Linked DNA regions of Homo sapiens. The protein of the gene in region 2 interacts with the protein of the main gene of each other region in a pairwise test. Each region holds a gene or a part of one and is shown on either strand. Other genes may lie near its edges. The genes, in order: SNX4, ARL6IP1 and SNX12.

What was found.
Region 1: the proteins of ARL6IP1 (region 2) and SNX4 interact in binary tests that used the Homo sapiens proteins (3 or more experiments, as listed by UniProt).
Region 3: the proteins of ARL6IP1 (region 2) and SNX12 interact in binary tests that used the Homo sapiens proteins (3 or more experiments, as listed by UniProt).

What each region holds. Positions count from the first base shown.
Region 1 is NC_000003.12:125,450,487-125,454,236, forward strand, and holds part of SNX4 (sorting nexin-4), read right to left. Parts: intron 3,470-3,750; coding exon 3,324-3,469; intron 934-3,323; coding exon 819-933; intron 1-818. UniProt on the Homo sapiens protein: Involved in the regulation of endocytosis and in several stages of intracellular trafficking. Plays a role in recycling endocytosed transferrin receptor and prevent its degradation.
Region 2 is NC_000016.10:18,799,740-18,803,489, reverse strand, and holds the start of ARL6IP1 (ADP-ribosylation factor-like protein 6-interacting protein 1), read left to right. Parts: upstream 1-1,940; 5' UTR 1,941-2,023; coding exon 2,024-2,059; intron 2,060-2,119; exon of another isoform or gene 2,120-2,291; intron 2,292-3,750. UniProt on the Homo sapiens protein: Positively regulates SLC1A1/EAAC1-mediated glutamate transport by increasing its affinity for glutamate in a PKC activity-dependent manner.
Region 3 is NC_000023.11:71,066,686-71,070,435, forward strand, and holds the start of SNX12 (sorting nexin-12), read right to left. Parts: upstream 1,650-3,750; 5' UTR 1,622-1,649; coding exon 1,457-1,621; intron 383-1,456; exon of another isoform or gene 321-382; intron 1-320. UniProt on the Homo sapiens protein: May be involved in several stages of intracellular trafficking.

The DNA.
Region 1 (3,750 bases), on a different chromosome or scaffold from region 2:
GAGAATTCATCTTACCATGTAATTTACTGAGATAATGCATGTAAAAGTGCTTGATAAATTATGACAGGTGATACAAATCAAAGCACTGGTACTGGTAGTCACACTGGCAGATCTTAGGTTATAAAAAAGAGGTTAAGGAATGTTTCCTATTTTGTTCTTAAACCAACGTTTTAGAAAGTCTTCCATCATTGTCAAACATTTATTTTAACTAGAATAAGCTTCAATGTTTGTATCTTTCACTATGGATATCAGCAACACAAATGATTTACTTTATGAGGAAGCATATCATAACCAGGTCTTCACGAAATAATGTTCAAGCTATTTTCCAATCAAAGCATATACCTGGAATGGTATTTTACTGTCTGGTCCAAGAGTACCATATGATCTAAATAATCTTGGTATATATTCTCAAATACAAGTTATAAATGGAGATACAAATTTGGACTTTAGATGAGTGGAGACTCAGTAATGGGCATACTGGTTGTAACACCAGTAGAGGCTGGACATGGTGGCTCGCACCTGTAATTGCAGCACTTTGGGAGGCCGAGGCAGGAGGACTATATGAGGCCAGGAGTTCGAGACCAGCCTGGGCAACATAGCGAGACCCCCCCATATCTATTTTTTAAATATTTAAAATTTTAAAATAAAAAAACCAAAACAAAATAAAACAGAAATCCTACAAAATTAAAATAGAGAAATTGGTAAACATTCTACAAGAGAAGAATAAAAATGAAAAATTTTTTGGTCAGGTAATTTAAATACATGTATAAGCACTTCTGAATATACATATATCTTCACTGAAACAGGAAAAACCCTACCTTTTTGCACATACTGATCTGCATGACTGCATAGCTTATGAGGGCCTCCTTTAAGTCTCGGTTCTTTTGTTCTTTGAAGCGTTCAATATCAGCCCATGCGTTTTTCACAAATTCTCTGAAATAAAAGGTATAGCCATTATTATTATTTAAGTTAAATAAACTGTGTACTAAAAAGTTAACCAGTTCTCATTGGCGTTGGTTTTTAATTGCCTATGTAGAAGGAAGAGTTATTGCTTGTATAAGACAGTTTTTTTATTTTCCTAAAAATTATAGTTAGGGAAAAAGCAAACAGACAGTCATATATTCTTGTACCTTTTAATCTACTTTTTCTTTTTTTTTTGAGACAGAGTCTCACTCTGTTGCCCAGGCTGGAGTGTAGTGGCGTGATCTTGGCTCACTGCAGCCTCTGCATTCCGGGTTTGAGCAATTCTCCTGCCTTAGCCTCCTGAGTAGCTGGGATTACAGGCACACGCCACTACGCCCAACTAATTTTTGTATTTTTAGTAGAGACAGGGTTTCACCATGTTGGCCAGGCTGGGCTTGAACACCTGAGCTCAGGTGATCTGCCCACCTCAGCCTCCCAAACTGCTGGGATTACAGCGTGAGCCGCTGCACCTGGCCTAATAATCTAAGTTTTTGCCACAAGGATTCTACCTTTAAATTATTCCTATAAAATACACATAGATGACTCCTTAAGCCAGCTCACAAACCTAACAGGTGTCAGTCACAATGAAGTAAGTGCCTTCCAGGGGTCACTGGAAAATATACACTCTTTTGACAAGATGGATTATGAATCACGTTTAGCATTTTTTTTTTTTTGAGACCAAGTCTCGCTCTGTAGCCCAGGCTGGAGTGCAGAGGCGTGATCTTGGCTCACCACAACCTCCACATCCAGGGTTCTTGCCTCAGTCTCCAGAGTAGCTGGGATTACAGGCACACGCCACTGCACTCGGCTAATTTTTTGTATTTTTAGTAGAGACAAGGTTTCACCATGTTGGCCAGGCTGGTCTTGAACTTCCGACCTCAGGCAATCCACTCTCCTAGGCCTCCCAAAGTGCTAGGATTACAGGTGTGAGCCACCACGGCCAGCTGCATGTACTTGTTTTAAATCACAACCAAAGTTTAAAAACTTTTTTAGCCAGGCTTGGTAGCCGGTAGTCCCAGTGATTCGGGAGGCTGAGATGGGAGGATCACTTGAGCCCTGGACTTTGAGGTGGCAGCGAGCAACAATGGCACCACTGCACTCCGGCCTGGGCAGCAGGGTGAGACTCCGTCTCAAAAAAATGAAAAATAATAATAAAAATTAAAATCCCGAGAGGTATTTGTTTTTGGAGACAGAGTTTCACTCTGTCGCCCAGGCTAGAGTGCAGTGGCGTGATCTCCGCTCACTGCAAGCTCCACCTCCCAGGTTCACACCATTCTCCTGCCTCAGCCTCCCGAGTAGCTGGGACTGTAGGCGCCTGCCACCGCGCTCGGCTAATTTTTTTGGTTTTTAGTAGAGACAGGGTTTCAGCATGTTAGCCAGGATGGTCTCAAACTCCTGACCTCATGATCCACCCACCTCAGCCTCCCAAAGTGCTGGGATTACAGGCATGAGCTACCGCGCCCGGCCTGTCTTTTTTAATTCTATCTATTACTTTGCCATATTTGGTGCTAGTAGTTCTAAAAATGAACAAAACCACCTCAAAACCCAAAATACACTCTTGGTCTGCCTTGGTCTATTCACTGACTGTCAGATGAAAACAAAAATAAGAAAAATGAGTCAAACAGTGATAGTGGGTCTCTGAGAACTGAATTTCTAGAAATACTTATGTAACAATTACATGCTAAGCCCTATGTAAGGCACTGGGATGTGAATGTGGAAAAGATACAATCACTGACTTTGAAGGGCTTAAATTTAGCCAGGGATAGTCACACAGAACAATCAATCATCTAATACAAAACTGCCATACCATACTGGCATGAATTAAATGCCGTGATAGCCTGAGAAGGCTTCACAATGAAGTAACACTTCAGCTGGGTACTGAAGGAGGGGAGGGGAGAAGAAATGGTGGAGGGAAAGTACAAAGGGTAGAAATCAGGAATAGTGCAGGAAAATAATATTATGAAGTTGAAACTTTTATTTCTCTTTCCCCCACATTGAAACAACTGTTTCTATAACATTATTTTTGATAATTCAACTTTCTTTTATTTTTATTTATTTATTTATTTATTTATTTATTTCTGTAGAGACAGGGTCTTCCTACGTTGCCCAGGCTGGTCTCAAACTCCCAGGCTCAAGCAATCCTCCCACCTCAGCCTCCTAAAGTGTCAGGATTACAGGCGTGAGCCACCACACCCAGCGTGATAACTCAAATTTCTTAGGAATGCATTTTAAAGGAATAGGCTGTATTCAGGGATGCCAATGAAGCTGGGAATTGTTACCAAAATAAATAAATAAATAAATAAAATAATCTACCATATAGTCTACAAGCCTAGCTTACTTAAACATCGCAGCATCTTTACCTGCCTTCCAGATTTTTAGACTTTAGCTGTTGTTCTCCTTCATTTATTTGTTCTTCTAGCACCTTTATTCTGGCTTCTCTCTGCTCTGGAGTTTCTTGACCAAAGAGCTTGGTAGTCATTCCCTTCAAAGAGAATGTTCTCACAGTCTAAAAGGAAACAGAAACAGATGAATGGATAAACAAAATGCGGCATACACATACACATACAATGGAACATTATTCAGCCTTTAAAAGGAATCAAATCTGATATATGCTACAACATGGATAAACCTGCAGGACATTATGCTAAGTGAAATAAGACAGATACAAAAAGACAAATACTGTATGATTCCACTTATATGAGACACCAGTGTTTACACTGTATTAGGTATTAATAATCTAGAGATAATTTAAAGCAGGGGGTCCCCAACCCCAGAGCCACGGAGTGA
Region 2 (3,750 bases):
TTCCCCGAAAGACCCACAGCAAATTGACACCCTTCCATGAAATTCACAATGCTCCTGCCCTTGCCCAGCTCTCTTAGGGGCAGTATGTGGTCTGCAGCTATGTTCTCTCACATTTATGACTTCCTTGAACATTTAAGAACCTGGTGGTTACTTAAGGAACATTTTAAAAATAAATTTAAATTCAATGGCCGAATACAAATGACCATGAGATTGGAAGTTAAAACCTGTAAAAAAGATAAAAGGTTGGAAGTTAAAACTATAGTTAATTCACCTGAAACAAACATCTGATCCGGACATTTGGCATGATTCTGTTTGTATCAAACGATGAAAAATCGGCCGGGCGCGGTGGCTACTGCACTACAGCCTGGGCAACAGAGCCAGGCTGTGTCTCAAGAAAAAAAGAAAAAAAAAAAAAAAAAAAAAAAAAAAAGATCAAAGCACTTGTTACTGCATTTGAAATCCTGGATAGAAAAGATGTACAAGTGCCTCAACACAGTTCCTAAACTGCCTAGGAATTCTACTGCTTGTGAGAGGGTTTACATATTTTCTTAGCTTGACCTCTAATGGAAGAAAGGTCGTGTCAAGAACTATCCTTTTGGCCGGGCGCGGTAGCTCACGCCTGTAATCCCAGCACTTTGGCAGGCTAAGGCGGGCGGATATCTTGAGGTCAGGAGGTCCAGACCACCCTGGCCAAAATAGCGAAACCCCGTCTCTATTAAAATACAAAAATTAGCCGGGCGTAGTGACGGGCGTCTGTAATTCCAGCTACTCGGGAGGCTGACGCGCCAGGATCACTTGAACCCGGGAGATGGAGGTTACAGTGAGCAGAGATCGCGCCACTGCACTTCAGCCGGGGCCACGGAGCGCGAGACTCCTTCGTCTCAAACAAACAAACAAACAATTCTGGCCGGGCGCGGTGGCTCACGCCTGTAATCCTAGCACTTTGGGAGGCCGAGGCGGGCGGATCACGAGGTCAGGAGATCGAGACCATCCTAACACGGTGAAACTACGTCTCTACTAAAAATACAAAAAATTAGCCAGGCGTGTTGGCGGACGCCTGTAGTCCCAGCTACTTGGAAGGCTGAGGCAGGACAATGGCGTGAACCCGGGAGGCAGAGCTTGCAGTGAGCAAGATCGCGCCACTGCACTCCAGGCTGGGCAACATAGCGAGACTCCGTCTCAAAAAAAAAGAAAAAAAAAAAAAGAATCCTTTTGGAGAGGGAGCTTGTAGTTTAAGTAACTTAAACATCCACGTATAATAAAGCCACTTAGAAGGCGGTGCATTTTCACACGTTCTCAAACCAGGCCTGGGTTTTTCCGCGCAAGCTAAGGCCTCATTCCTACTGGGTAGGAGAGAAACATTGCAGCAAAATCCACACAAAGAGCTCTTTTCACTTGTCCTCAAAACCTCACGGGTCGCAAATCCGGGCTAAACGGCTCAGGGGCCTGGCTGGGGAACTGGGCCGAAGGTGGAACGGATCCCAGCCACCTCGGGGCCAGGAAAAGATGAAGTGTCGCAGGCCCGGCGTCCCCGCCCTCCGCCTGAGGCAACGGAGCATCTCTCTTCGAGTAGCCCATTTTCCAGAGAGTCTCCTCGGCTGCGAAAGCCAGACGAAGAGGGACCCAAAGCCACCGCAGCGGCAAGAGCCGGAGAACCACTGAGGGACAGCGCCCCCTGCAGAGGCGGTTGAACCGCTTCCCACAGCGCTGGGCGGGGCGTCGCGCAGTCCCTGGGCGCTGATTGGGCACTCCGTGTCCCCTCCCCCTCGGCCCGGCGCTGCCTCTGTCTCCTTTGACCTCGATTTCAAGCCATGCGCTGAGCTTCGGTTGGCCCGGCTTCCTTGAGGCGTAAGCTCGGTCTGTCCAATGAGGAGCGAGCGTCGCGGGGGCCGTCGGGAAGGGCGGCCGACCCATATAAGCAGCCTGCGGGGCGTTCCCTCGGGTTGTGGTTGGTGTGCGGGTTTCGGTTGGAGGACTCGTTGGGGAGGTGGCCTGCGCTTGTAGAGACTGCATCCCCGAGACGATGGCGGAGGGAGATAATCGCAGCACCAACCTGCTGGTGAGTCCTGGCTGCCTGTCCCCCGGGAGCCGAGCGAGGCCTCCAGACGTCCGTGGGCTCAAACACCGCGGCCTCGTCCCTGTCACCCGCCGCGGGCCCGGCCCTTCTCTCCCTGGGCAGGCGACGATGCCTGGCCCTCGGGCTTCTTGGGTGACTCCTGGGTGTCGAACCCTTACCTTTCCTGGGGACGGTGCGCGACGGGGCGAGGAGGGCGCGTGATTCATCACCGCGAGTAGGAGTCGAGGAGGAAGTGGGAGGCAGAGGGGCTGCGACACTAGCCTGGGGTGCGGGTGGGGGCAGAAGGCCTCCTGGGGCCTGTCCAGCGCTTTCGCGGCTCAGGCCCCAGCCGTATTCGGCTTTCCCCGTCTTTGATCTTAACCTGGATGTGCCTGCCTTCTTTTCCCCCTAAAACTTGGACAAGGGTGGAGGGTCAAAGGGCTACTGCCCAGAATTTATCTTAGAGCTGGTACAACTTAAAACGACAGGGAGGCTGCGAGCTCACCGTGGGGAACCGGGAGCGGGGTCCAGCTGAACAGACAATGGGATGTCTTGGCGTTTGTCTGGAATTTGGAAGTCTGGCGGGGGTGGGGTCACAGGACTACTGGAAACAGCTTTAGAGTAATAAGCAGGGATCCGAAGGAACTGCAGTGAGATGGTATCATAGGCGGACACATTTTTATTTGTTATGAATTTAAGCGCACCTTGTGGGCAAAAAACAAGAGAAATATCCTTGCATATTCTCAGTTGCCCTTCCCTGGTGACTGTAGGTCACATACCAGCAATGAAAAACGGAACCAAAGAATTTACTTAGGGGCTTTTGAACTTCCAAGACCCCAGACGCTGGCCAATGACGTGACTTCAGGGCAGTTTTGATTGTGCGTGATTTTATATTTGCTTTTAGAAATGCATGGTTTGTTCCTTTAAACACACGCTCCTTCTAGCATAGTTAGTTCTCAGCGTGGATCTTTTTAAGAGGATTAATTGAAGCACAGAGAAGTAGCTCAAGCCCTGTTGAAATGACAAATCCTGGGCTAGAGCTCCTGCTTCCCAACTCTCCTTCCAGCAGAGCAATATAACTCTAAGGAAAGCAACGCCTTTGGTCGTGGATTTCTTGGATGCAGATCAGTTAACCTCTGTATCTGTTTCCTCCTTGGTAAAATGGGGACAGTAATAACACCTTTTTTTAAGGGTTGTTAGGAAGATTAATTGAAGTATAAATATGAATGCTCAGCAGAGTGCCCACACATAGTAGTCTCTTTCACTAGTATTAAGCATGGAATATAAAGTCAGAAATATTGAGATCACACTAGTGCTCAGCGTGGCACAGATAGCGAGCGTCTTTGTTAAGATTAAGTGCCTTGTTCTGTCATTTGCATGATTTCCAGTGAATGACTTTTACAAAGAGACAAGGTCTCAGCCCAGGCTGGTCCCGATCTCCTGGGCTCAAGCAATCCCCCCCGACCCGCCAAGTGCTGGGTTTACAGGCGTGATCCACTGCATCCAGCCTGATAACATAGAGACACTTGAGTTTCTTATTCTAAATTTTTCTTCCTTTACCAAAACCAGCTTTAAGGGCTTTTGCCACATTAGCTCATCCTAGAGGCCCACTTTCGGCTGTTCAGAGTCAGAGAAATTTGAAGTATAATCAAAATGACATCCTGAGTGGTAAGAAACACTGTATTGAGGAGGTA
Region 3 (3,750 bases), on a different chromosome or scaffold from region 2:
AACCCCACAGCAGACAGCCCTTATGCTGTACTAGTCATGCCCAAGCTCCCTCAGGTAACTAAGTTCTCCAGCACTGACAATTTCCTGCTTTTATCATATTCTGAAGGACCTAAATTCCATTCTCCCCCAAAGACATGATTTCACATAGTTCTTATATAGACAAGTGTTTCTCATGTTTTGCTATTCACTTTTCTTTCTTCAGTTTGGACTTTGCCAAACTTGGAATCTGGAAATCATAATTTCTCAATAAGATTTCAAAGCCCAAGTAGGAGACCACAATTTCTCATTCAATTCACTCCTTCAACAATGAAAGCACATACACTCTTTTAGTTCTTCAATGCTGTTTGAGCAGGATGCTGTCCACAGAGAATATTCTGGCCTTTTAGTCTGAGAAGAAAACATAAGGAAAACTAGAAAATGATTCTCAAACTGTTTTGCCTATAACCACTTCAAGTGGGCAAAAGATCCTGCAAACCAAGTACTCTATCTGCACATTCCATCCTTGCATTATGGGCTAAGCACTAGAGAGTAAAGTCCTCTATCATGCATGCTGGAAGAAGCCACTCCTGGGCAATTCTGAAATGTCATGTATTAAAGTAACTACAGACCAGGGTCAGAATCCAAAAGGGTAATCTAGGACAGAAAGGGCAAAAAGCCATTCATATACAAAGTACCTAAACGAGAGTCAATAAATACTGAAATAAACATTCTGGATACTTCAAATCTAAAGGATCCACATAGAATGAAAGCAGTGACTGACAAGGCACCAATCCCAGGGCCAGGCCAGGTTTCAAGGCGAGACAGCACGTAGTATCTGCGAAAACTTAAGCATAAAACATTTCTCTCCTTCAGATGCTGATCCGACACAAGTTAGGAAAGCGCTCGGTCTCAAGGAGACTCCCTTTCTTATTTCTGCTCCCACAAGCCTACTGTCTGCCTTTTCTGGAATCTACCTTCCCTTTAATTCAAGGCTTTGCTTTACTCCATTATCCCAGGGAGACCTCATTAGAAAGCAGCCGGCCTTCCTGCCCTCCCTCTTCAGACTTCTCACAACCTAGTTTAGTTATGGAGCTCAGCGATATATCGCCTTGGCTTTCCATCCCCCAGCCCTCTTCCATCCTCCCTCCCTTCCTTCAGTCGCTACAGCCGTGATTCCTATCTCCTTGAATTCCTCACTCTAATCTTTTTCCATCCACCCCACCCTATCCAGCCATGCTTCACTTCCTCATGGGTAGCTTTCCTGCATCCCCGTCCGATGTCTCCCTCAGGAGTTTTCTGCATCCTCCGGCCACAACTGAATCGGCAGACCTCGTTCCAAGCCTATTATACCCCTAACCCCCAAATGACCCCTAAGGCGTCTTCCCCGCCGTTAGTTGCCCCCGCGGTAGCCTCCCTCCCCCCTCCCGCTCGCGCCGCCCGGTCCTCCCTCAGCTGTCTCCCTCACCCCGTGACTCACCCGCATGCGAACCTCATAGGTGGTGAAGCGCGCGCGTCCCACGCCCACCGTCTGAGGATTAAAGATGTCGATCTCCAGGAAGTTACTTGGCGGCCCGTAAGCGTCGGTCAGGTCCTGCGGCTTCGAGTTAAGGCGCCGGGTATCAGCTACTGCCGTGTCCGACATCTTTCCGAAGGAGAGCCTGGGACCGGGGAAAGGGGGTGGGGGACAGAGGCCTGAGGCAGGAGCGCGCACGGCCCCTCCCGCTTGCAAAATAACTAGCCAACCCACAGGCGGCGGCGGCGCGCACGCGCGCCCACGCACGCACGCGCACGCCGCACGGGCCTGGGCCCCGGGCTCTGAATAGCGGCCGTGCTGACTGCTGCGCGCCCTGTAGAGTGGAGGCCATATTCAGGCTTCCGGGTGATGTTTGTGGCCACCCGGGAACCTGCATCCCCAATACGCAGTACCCAATACCCTGCCTAGCAGCACAGGCTGGCTCCGCCAATCGCGGCTCCTCAACCCAAGAAATTGTCTCGTACCGTGTATCAATCAACAGTGGGCACTGCCCCGTGAGCCAGGCTCCTACAGTGATAGGCCGAAGCCCAGTGACCTGAATAAGTCCTGGTTTTCCGCGAAAATAGAAGGGTGGTCTATGGAGGGTGGGGTTCCAACAATAGTACTGAGAACCTATAACGTAGCCGTCCCACCTGTGCCACTGATGGTTTCAGTTCACGCCACACACAATGGCGCACTCAGCACTACGTATGGCGCCAGGAAAGCAGCAAGCAACTAGGATGGGGTAAAGAAAGACATTTCTCTCTTACTTTTCAGGAAAATTGGGCATATCTTACTCCTTGTTGCCACACTCCAGGTGTACTCAATCTTACATTTATCAGCAAATTGAGGGTACTTATTTCATACCTTCTATTTCTACTCCGCAGAACTCCATACTTGGCACTGCTCTGAGGTTGCTTGCAACCCATAATGGAGATAGAATAAATGTTTACATGAGAATATCTATAGAAATATTAATATTTATATGACTAATTTACATATGCTCCACATTAAAGGGTAGACTGGGTGATGATTTCAGGTCATCCTTTCTCCACCTTTCCCCTGCCCTCCTCTACTCAAAAAATATTTCCCATATCACTGATGCCTGAAATTCTTTCAACAGAGTATGAGGCCCTACAATTTCACAATTGCTGTTTAATTCAATTTAACCAATATCCACTAAGCAAATACGTGCCAAGCACCATGCTAAACACTAAAATCCTGGAGTTAAATAAGAGTCCCTGCCCTCAAGGAGTTAACATTCTAGCAAGGGAGACAAGTAAACAAAACTAATATAATGCGACAAATACAAAATAAGTAAATGTTCAAAGCAGCACATAGGAAATGTATAACTGGAAAAATTAGGGGAGGTTCCCCTGGAGGAGGAAACATCTGAGTTTAACAGACATGAAAAGACATAAAGGACAAATAGGAGTGGAAATAGGGAAAGGTAATTTCTGGAATAAGAAACAGCATATGCAGGCCGGGCGCGGTGGCTCACACCTGTAATCCCAGCACTTTGGGAGGCCGAGGCAGGCAGATCACTTGAGGTCAAGAGTTCGAGATCAGCCTGGCCAACATGGTGAAACCCTGTCTCTATTAAAAATACAAAAATTAGCTGGGCATGGTGGCACACGCCTGTAATCCCAGCTACTCAGGAGGCTGAGGCAGGAGAATCGCTTGAACCCGGGAGGCAGAGGTTGCAGTGAGCTGAGATCATGCCACTGCACTCCATCCTGGGCAACAGAGCAAGACTCCATCAAAAAAAGAAAGAAAGAAAAGGAAAAGAAAAGAGAGAGAGAGAGAGAGCGAAAGAAAGAAAGAATACACAAAGTCCTTGCGATAAGAAACAGTGGAGCATTTTTAGGCATTTATCGCCAATTCAGACTGTGTGATGGAAGTGTTTAGAAAGGTAGACTGGCTAGGGATGGGCAGACAAAGGATGATCCGCTTATATTAAGTAAAGGATCTCTGACTTCATGATAGGTGATACAAAGCTTTCTGGTAGGTGATAGGGAGTCCCTGAAGGATCCTAAGCAGGAAAAATACATGATCAGATTTATGTTTTAGAAGAATTGTTTTGTAGACAACATGGAAGGTATATTTAAGTTGAATTATGAAGGTATTGACAATAAGACTCCGAATCAAGTGGTGATGGTGACAATGGAGAGGAGGGAAGAGATAGGAAAGAGATTGAAGAAATAAAATAGATACGACTTGTACGTGATTAGATATGGTGGTAGTATAGTGTAGGGCTT